2 linked regions of the Homo sapiens genome follow. The gene in region 1 interacts genetically with each later gene. Each region holds a gene or a part of one and is shown on either strand. Other genes may lie near its edges.

Region 1 (3,961 bases):
GAAGGCTCTGACTAAAAGTGCTCATCTTCTTCTCAAACAGATTTTTTTCTTTCTTTTTTTGCTGCCATGTCTGTGTTAAGAGTAGCTAAACTTCCCCCAAATGCTTTGTGTGTATGTGTTGTATGTCAAACCATTTGAGTCCCCTTCAGGCAGGTAGTTCAGTTCAGAGTGGGTTTATCAAGCTTATGTTGCAAACCGTGTTTCTGGAGAGACTAAATGAAGGCAGTGAATGAAAACCTCTGTTAATGTTTAGTGAGATACAAGAATAAAAATCACATTTATAGGAAATGGCCATTGCTGGTTATGGAACATTTTTCACTAGAAAGTTAATTCCATAAATGTAAGAGCTGACTTGTGTTAGCACCTAGAGTACTTTCGTATATGCAATGTGGTCAAACTATTTTTTACTGTAACCTACAGTAAGATACATATTTATTTCAAAATCATGCCTGTCTCCCCTGACACACATATATGAAATATATGCATATGCCTATATTGATAAAGGAAACCAGAGTTTCACAAAACAATGTTTACTCATTCTGTGCAGTCTAATAGTTTTTATTCTATTAAGATCTGATTTCTGGCTGGGTGTGGTGGCTCACACCTGTAATCCCAGCACTTTGGGAGGCTAAGACCGGCAGCTCTCTTGAGCTCAGGAGTTTGAGATCAGCTTGGGCAACATGGCAAAACCCTGTCCCTAAGAAAAATACAAAAATTAGCCAGGCATGATGGTGCATGCCTGTAGTCCCAGTTACTCAGGAGGCTGAGGCAGGAGAATCACTTGAGTCCAGGAGGTCAAGGGTGCAGTGAGCCGCCATCATGCCACCATACTCTGGCCTGGACAACTGAGTAAGACCCTTTCTCAAAAAAAAAAAAAAAAAAAACAACAAAAAAAACACCTGATTTACATTGTTTGTAATGCTGATTGCAACCCATTAAGTTGACTTCATGACCCACTAATGGATTGTGACTCTAAGTTTGAAAATCCCTGATATACACAGTTATGCTTAATCCTTACGGCGGGAGTTCTCACCCCGTTAGTCAGGCTCATAGAGGTAGACAAACCTGGCTAAAGTTGCAGAGGTGAAATTCTATTTTGGAATTTCTGATTGTGGAGCCATTGCTTTGTTTGGCCATCTCAACCAGCTGAGTATCTGCTTTTGCTTTATATTATGGCTGGTGACTTGGTGAGTTTGCCCATTTCCAACTAAGCTTCAGAAACAGAGAAAGGGAACCAGTTTGGGAAAAGGGTCCAGCTACAATGAACACTACCATTTGTCTCCCACAAGGTCAGAATAGCCAGAGGACTCTTCCCATATGAAATACCCCATATTCTTCCTTAATGGCTTATGTTTATAGCAGATTTCCTGAGTAGAAGCTTAAAGTAATCAGACATTAATTAAACCACCTCTAAACATAACCAGAAGGTGTGATACTTCACCTCCCCAAACATTTTCAGCCTTCCTTTAATGCAATTAAAACCATAGCCTAGAGCAAAGAGCATGAAAAGTAGCAAGGAGTTGGCTTGCTGGATAATTTATATCATTTTTATACATAACTTCGCACTTACTCTCAGGCGGAAATGGAGAACTGTCTAATCCCGCACATTTGAAGCCAATGGTCCCCATGAGAATACTATAAATTAACACACAATGAAATTGCATCTAAATTATTAATGGGTGATATTTCTGAATAAGCAGGAGATACCATCTATCTATTCTCACCTCTGTTGGTTTTTTCCTACTTCTAGGATGGCCCCGAAGCCGGACAGACTGTGAAGGTGAGTGCTTATTATGTGCATACAAATTAATAAGAGGCGATTATGAGAACTAATAAAAAATCACAACGAGTCATATGCAGCACATTGCTGTTTCATTATGTTATCTTCGAGGTCAGAGAGACCCTCAGTGTTAGAGCCGTAAATCCTGACATTATAAACTCTGCCAAACAATATGTTTCCCATTGGTTTACAAGACATTTACTTTTAGTAGTAAAATTATTATTGTGCAAACGCTAAAACAGAAACTAAATCAAGGAGTCCGGAAACATAAGTCAAAGTGGTTCATGTGAGAGAGTGTCTAGGAAATAGCATGTGAGCTTCCTGTGGGTTTGTGCAGCCCCATGTTAAGCCTGGGGTGTCTTTGACACACCTTTGCTTCTTGACATAGTCTGCTTTTGCTTCATTGTTTTTGAGTGAAGCAATAACCGCAGCAGTAGCATCAAGCTGCCTCCCTTCCTTTCTGTTCTCCTGTGCTTCTCTCTGTTCTCCTTCTCGTCACCCCCACACCTACTCTTTTCCTCCCTGTGTACTTAATACCAAAGTTCAAACCTAATGGAGTCAGTGGAGCTCAAAGATGGGTTTTTAAGTGTGCTAGGAGAAGAAAGGAGGATTTATTAGGATAGTCTCTGCTTCTGTAGTAAAAATAAAATAATAAAATCCTGGCTGATTCAGAAGCTGGGTTTCAGCTCTTTTCATACAAATGCTAATTCCTATACGGGTAGATTCTGCACCTAAGTCATAGAAAAGGCTCTATTTTTGGTGCTAGAAGTCAGAAGCAAGTCAGGCTGGGATGTTAATGTTACACTTTGTTGAAATAAAGTTTAATGCTTCGAAGACTAGCTGTGAGTGGATAAGGTGCTGCCCACACAAACAATGCCAAATAAACGTAAGTTCCCTTTTGATCTTACTTTACTTTTGTCTTTAACACAGCTATTCTGGGACTTTTAAAATACAATCTCTGGGAAATACTTCTAAGCAGTGAAAGTTTATGTAGGGACTGCCACCATATGGGCTACCAAATTCCTTATCATAAAAAAGGGCTAGCCTCCTAATTGCTCTACACACAGGGTATGGTGATAGACACAGAGGCTTTCAGCTTTCCTCTGTCCCACTGTCTCACCTCCATGTGAGGCTCTAAATATACGGATGCAAAGAAAGGATTTAATACCTGTGGCTTCTTTTTGAAATCACTTCTTGAAATGCAAAACACAAATGTTTAAACTTGGTTCCAAGATTTTTTAAAACTCAGTATTCAAATGTAAATTCCAACTATACCGGATTAGTTAGATGCACTATGCAATATCTATTTGATGGAATTCCTTCAGCCATTGAAAGCGATACTGTAGAGGCATAGCTAGTGACATGGGGGAATGCACAAACTGTATTAAGTGGGATGCACAGAATGATAATAGGTGCATAGTAAGCATAGCTAAAACTTATATGAATAGATAGGTTATATGATCTCAAAATTTCATTTAGCCATTCTAAAGCGGGATAGAAAATATTTGCTATGCAACAGGCTCTGAATAGAGATAGAAAGTAGATTAGTGGTTGCCAGGGACTGGGACAAGGAAGGAATGGGGAATGATTCCTAATGGATACAGGTTCTTTTAGGGTAATGAAAACGTTGTGGACTTAGTGGTGATGGTTGTGCAACATTGTGAATATAATAAAGCCACTGAATTGTACGTTTTAAAATGGTGAATTTTATCATATTTGAATTATCTCTTGACTAAAAATAATAAACACACACACACAAAACAAATAAGCAGTGAGCCTAGCTGGGCTGATAACTATGGCTACAGATTGTGTAACTCCAATAGTAATTACTTTTTGATGTCCCAATTATCTGGCCAAAATGTGTAATGTTTTTGTTACCTTTGATGGTGATGATGATGGACTAATTCTTAACATATAGTACTTATATATGAATTGTTGAATGTGGTTATTGTTATCATCACCCTGATTATTTAGCTTAAGTTGAACTTTTTAAAACGATTCTGTTTTTTAAATCAGCAGGTTATGCTGTTTTGCACATCTTTCAGTTGTTTCCAACCTGATCACAGAAGTTTCCTGATATGAAATAATGGGGATATCTTGACTCGTTTGTAGAATATGGTGGTTATAAGAAAACCACCATACACACACACACACACACACACACACACACACACACACACA
Region 2 (3,500 bases), on another chromosome or scaffold:
ATATTAAGTATGCTGATAATCTCACTCATTCCAGAGTCTCTCTTCTCCCAGTGGGTATGTGTGTCCCCAACCCAATCTATCAACAGGGGTGCAGCTCCTAGGGATTGAGTGTATATGAACTCATAGCAACAAAACTTACTGTCTTTTACCAAAATACCACTGAAAGAAGAAACAATCAAAGATGAAAACATAATGGGAGGAAAAACAAGATTATTAAAATGTGAGAAAGAAAAAGGCCTGACTTGTGGCTGAAAAGCTAGAGCGGCAATTAGAAGATGGCAAAGGTCTTGAGAGGCCTTCAACTTCCACTTTCAGTCTTTTAGAACGTTCCTATGGCATGGAAAGACGCTCAGCCTAGCTGAATGATGCAGAAAGAAAAGACTCAGCTAACAGACAGTGCCAAGACTCCAAATATGGGAGTAAGGATGTTTTAGACCACCAGCCACAGTAAAGACATCAAATGACTACAGCTGGATGAGTTAAGCCCGAGCGAGATCAGCAGATTTGCCCAAAAAACACAGCCCAAATTACAAAAGTTTTTGTAATAATTCTTACTTCAAGAAACTATGAAAACACACAACCATACCACGACTGTGCAGCACTGAAATAACCCACTATGTTCTGGGAAAATTAATACAAGATATTCAACTCAACACATCTGAATTAAGCTCTTAAACTTCAAAGACAAAGAAAATACTTCAAGAACTGAGAGAGAGTGAATCAAGGAGTGATGTCAGTGAAAATGGCAGAGAAAAGAACTCCAGAAGTCCATTACTCCACAAAAGCAATTTTAAAAACCTGCCAAAGCCTGTCAGAATCAACTTTTTCAGAACATTGTAAACTAGCTAAAAGCTTGCAGCAACTTATTCAAAACAAGTGAAACGCAGTAAGAACAGTGAGCTTTCTGGCATTTTAACTTACCCTGTTTATCCCCTGCTCCTCACTCAGTAGCAGCCTTGAAAATAACAGTTCATATTTAAGGCATAGGTCCAGGTGGGAGCAGAATAAACCTCATTTACAAACTATCTTAAGCCGATCTGACCCTCTAAAATGACCTGATCAAAAGGCTTGTCCTGGCCAGGCACAGTGGCTCATGCCTGTAATCCCAACACTTGGGGAGGCCGAGGTGGGTGGATCACCTGAGGTCAGGAGTTCAAGACCAGCCTGACCAACATGGTGAAACCCTGTCTGTACTAAAAATACAAAAATTAGTAGGGTGTGGTGGCAGGCGCCTGTAATCCCAGCTACTTGGGAGGCTGAGGCAGGAGAATCGCTTGAACCCGGGATGCAGAGGTTGCAGTGGGCTGAGATCACACCATTGCACTCCAGACTGGGCAACAGTGCGAGACTCCATCTCAAAAAAAAAAAAAAAAAAAGAGGCTTGTCTTTATTTCACCTTTGTAACTCTAACTCACCTTGTGCTAAAGCTACTCCTGAGTAGCGTTTGCTGAAAACACTTACAGGAAAATGCTTTAGTCTCTGTTGCCTGAAGCAATGAAAGCAACTGGTGCAAACAGACTACCCAAGAAGTTTGGAAGAAGAGGTTAGGGAGTGAGATGTTTCTGGGGAATAGGACTCTGAAAAGGTCCAACATATACCTGGGAATCTAAAAAGACACACCCATGACCAGGGCAGTACATATGCTTAGGAAAGAGCTGAGAAGGCCCCTAAGCTCTACATGTGCCCTAACTTTGCATTTTGCACAAGCAGATAGCGAAGGCTGAAGCAACGTTGTAAACTTCTTGGTTGAGTATTGCAGGTGTGCCCCAACACAAATACAGAACACTCTGCAGATTTTTTGTTTTTGGTATACAGAATTTAAGGAAATCTCTGTCCAATCATTAGCTGACCACTAAAACTAATGGGACAGAAATTGTACAGCCATGCATGACAAACAATACCAACTTTAAAAAATTATATAAGAAAAATCACTAGGGCCGGGCATGGTGCCTCACACCTGTAATCCCAGCCACCTGAGGTCAGGAGTTCGAGACCAGCCTGGCCAACATGATGAAACCCCATCTCTAATAAAAATACAAAAAGCCAGGCACAGTGGCAGGTGCCTGTAGTCCCAGATACTTGGAAGGCTGAGGCAGGAGACTCACTTGAAGCCAGGAGGTGGAGGCTGCAGTGAGCCAAGATCACGCCACTGCACTCCAGCCTGGGCAACAAGAGCAAAGCTCCGTCTCAAAAAAAAAAAAAAACAAACACCACTAAAAAAAACAAACAACTACATCAAGCGGTAACAAACACTGGCAAGAGGGGAAAATCTGACTTTCTAGAGTTGCCACATATTGCCACAATATGTCCAGTTTTCAACAAAAAATTACAAAGCATGTAAGGAAACAAAGTATGGCCCTTATAAAGGAAAAACAGCAACCAAAACTGTCCCTGAGAAACATAAAGAAAGAAGAATAAAGAAAAATGAACAGAGTCTAAGAACTGTGGCACATCAAGTATACCAACAATAAACATAATGAGTCCAAGAGGGAGAGGAGAGTTAGATATAAAAAAAAAAATCTGAAGAAATTGTGGCCAAAAACTTCCCAAGTGTGATTAAAAACATTAATTTACATATCCAAGAAGCTCAACGAACTCCGAACAGAATGAAAAAAGAAATCCACACCAAGATACACCATAGTCAAACTGTGGTCAACAGAGAAACATAAAAGCAGCAAGAGAGCAGCAACGTCTCACATAAAAGAGATCCTCAGTAAGATTAACAGCTGATTTCTCATCAGAAACCACAAAGGCTAGAAGGCAGTAGTGGCATAATCAAAGTGCTGAAAGACAAAAGCTAATAAGAATTCTATATCCAGCAAAACTACCTGTCCAAAAAGTGGAAGAGAAATTAAGGCACTTAAACTGATAGGAATAGATACTACACTTGATCTTAGCCAAAAGGCTAAGAAGCGATTTTTTTTTTTTTTTGAGACAGTCTTGCTCTGTCACCCAGGCTGGAGAGCAGTCATGCAATCAGATCACGACTCACTGCAGCCTTGATCTCCAATGGCTCAGACTATCCTCCCACCTAAAGCCTCCCCAATAGCTGGCATTACAGGTGCACACCACAACGCCCAACTAATTTTTAAAATATTTTTAGTAGAGATGGGGTTTCACCATGTTGGCCAGGCTGGTCTCAAACTCCTGGCCTCAAGTGATCTACCCACCTCAGCCTCCTAAAGTGCTGGAATTACAGGTGTCAGCCATGACACCTGGCTAAGGCACTTTAGATTCAAAGACACAAATAGGTTAAAAGGAAAAGGAAAAAAAAAATAGACCATGGAAACAATAACCAAAAGAGAGCTGGTAGCTGGGTATGGTGGTACATGCCTGCAGTCCCACCTACTTGGGAGGCCAAGGCAGGAGGGTCACTTGAGCCCAGGAATTTGAGGCTGCATTGCACTATGATCGTGCCTTTAAGTAGCCACTACAGTCTAGCCTAGGCAACATAGTGAGACTCCATCTAAAAAAAGGAAAATACACAAGATAGCTGGTGA

Evidence for each region.
Region 2: changes in FHIT (region 1) and CHEK1 are lethal when combined (synthetic lethality), as found in Homo sapiens cells (one large-scale study listed by BioGRID).

What each region holds. Positions count from the first base shown.
Region 1 is NC_000003.12:60,009,190-60,013,150, reverse strand, and holds part of FHIT (bis(5'-adenosyl)-triphosphatase), read left to right. Parts: intron 1-1,750; coding exon 1,751-1,780; intron 1,781-3,961. UniProt on the Homo sapiens protein: Possesses dinucleoside triphosphate hydrolase activity. Cleaves P(1)-P(3)-bis(5'-adenosyl) triphosphate (Ap3A) to yield AMP and ADP. Can also hydrolyze P(1)-P(4)-bis(5'-adenosyl) tetraphosphate (Ap4A), but has extremely low activity with ATP.
Region 2 is NC_000011.10:125,649,163-125,652,662, reverse strand, and holds part of CHEK1 (serine/threonine-protein kinase Chk1), read right to left. Parts: intron 1-3,500. UniProt on the Homo sapiens protein: Serine/threonine-protein kinase which is required for checkpoint-mediated cell cycle arrest and activation of DNA repair in response to the presence of DNA damage or unreplicated DNA.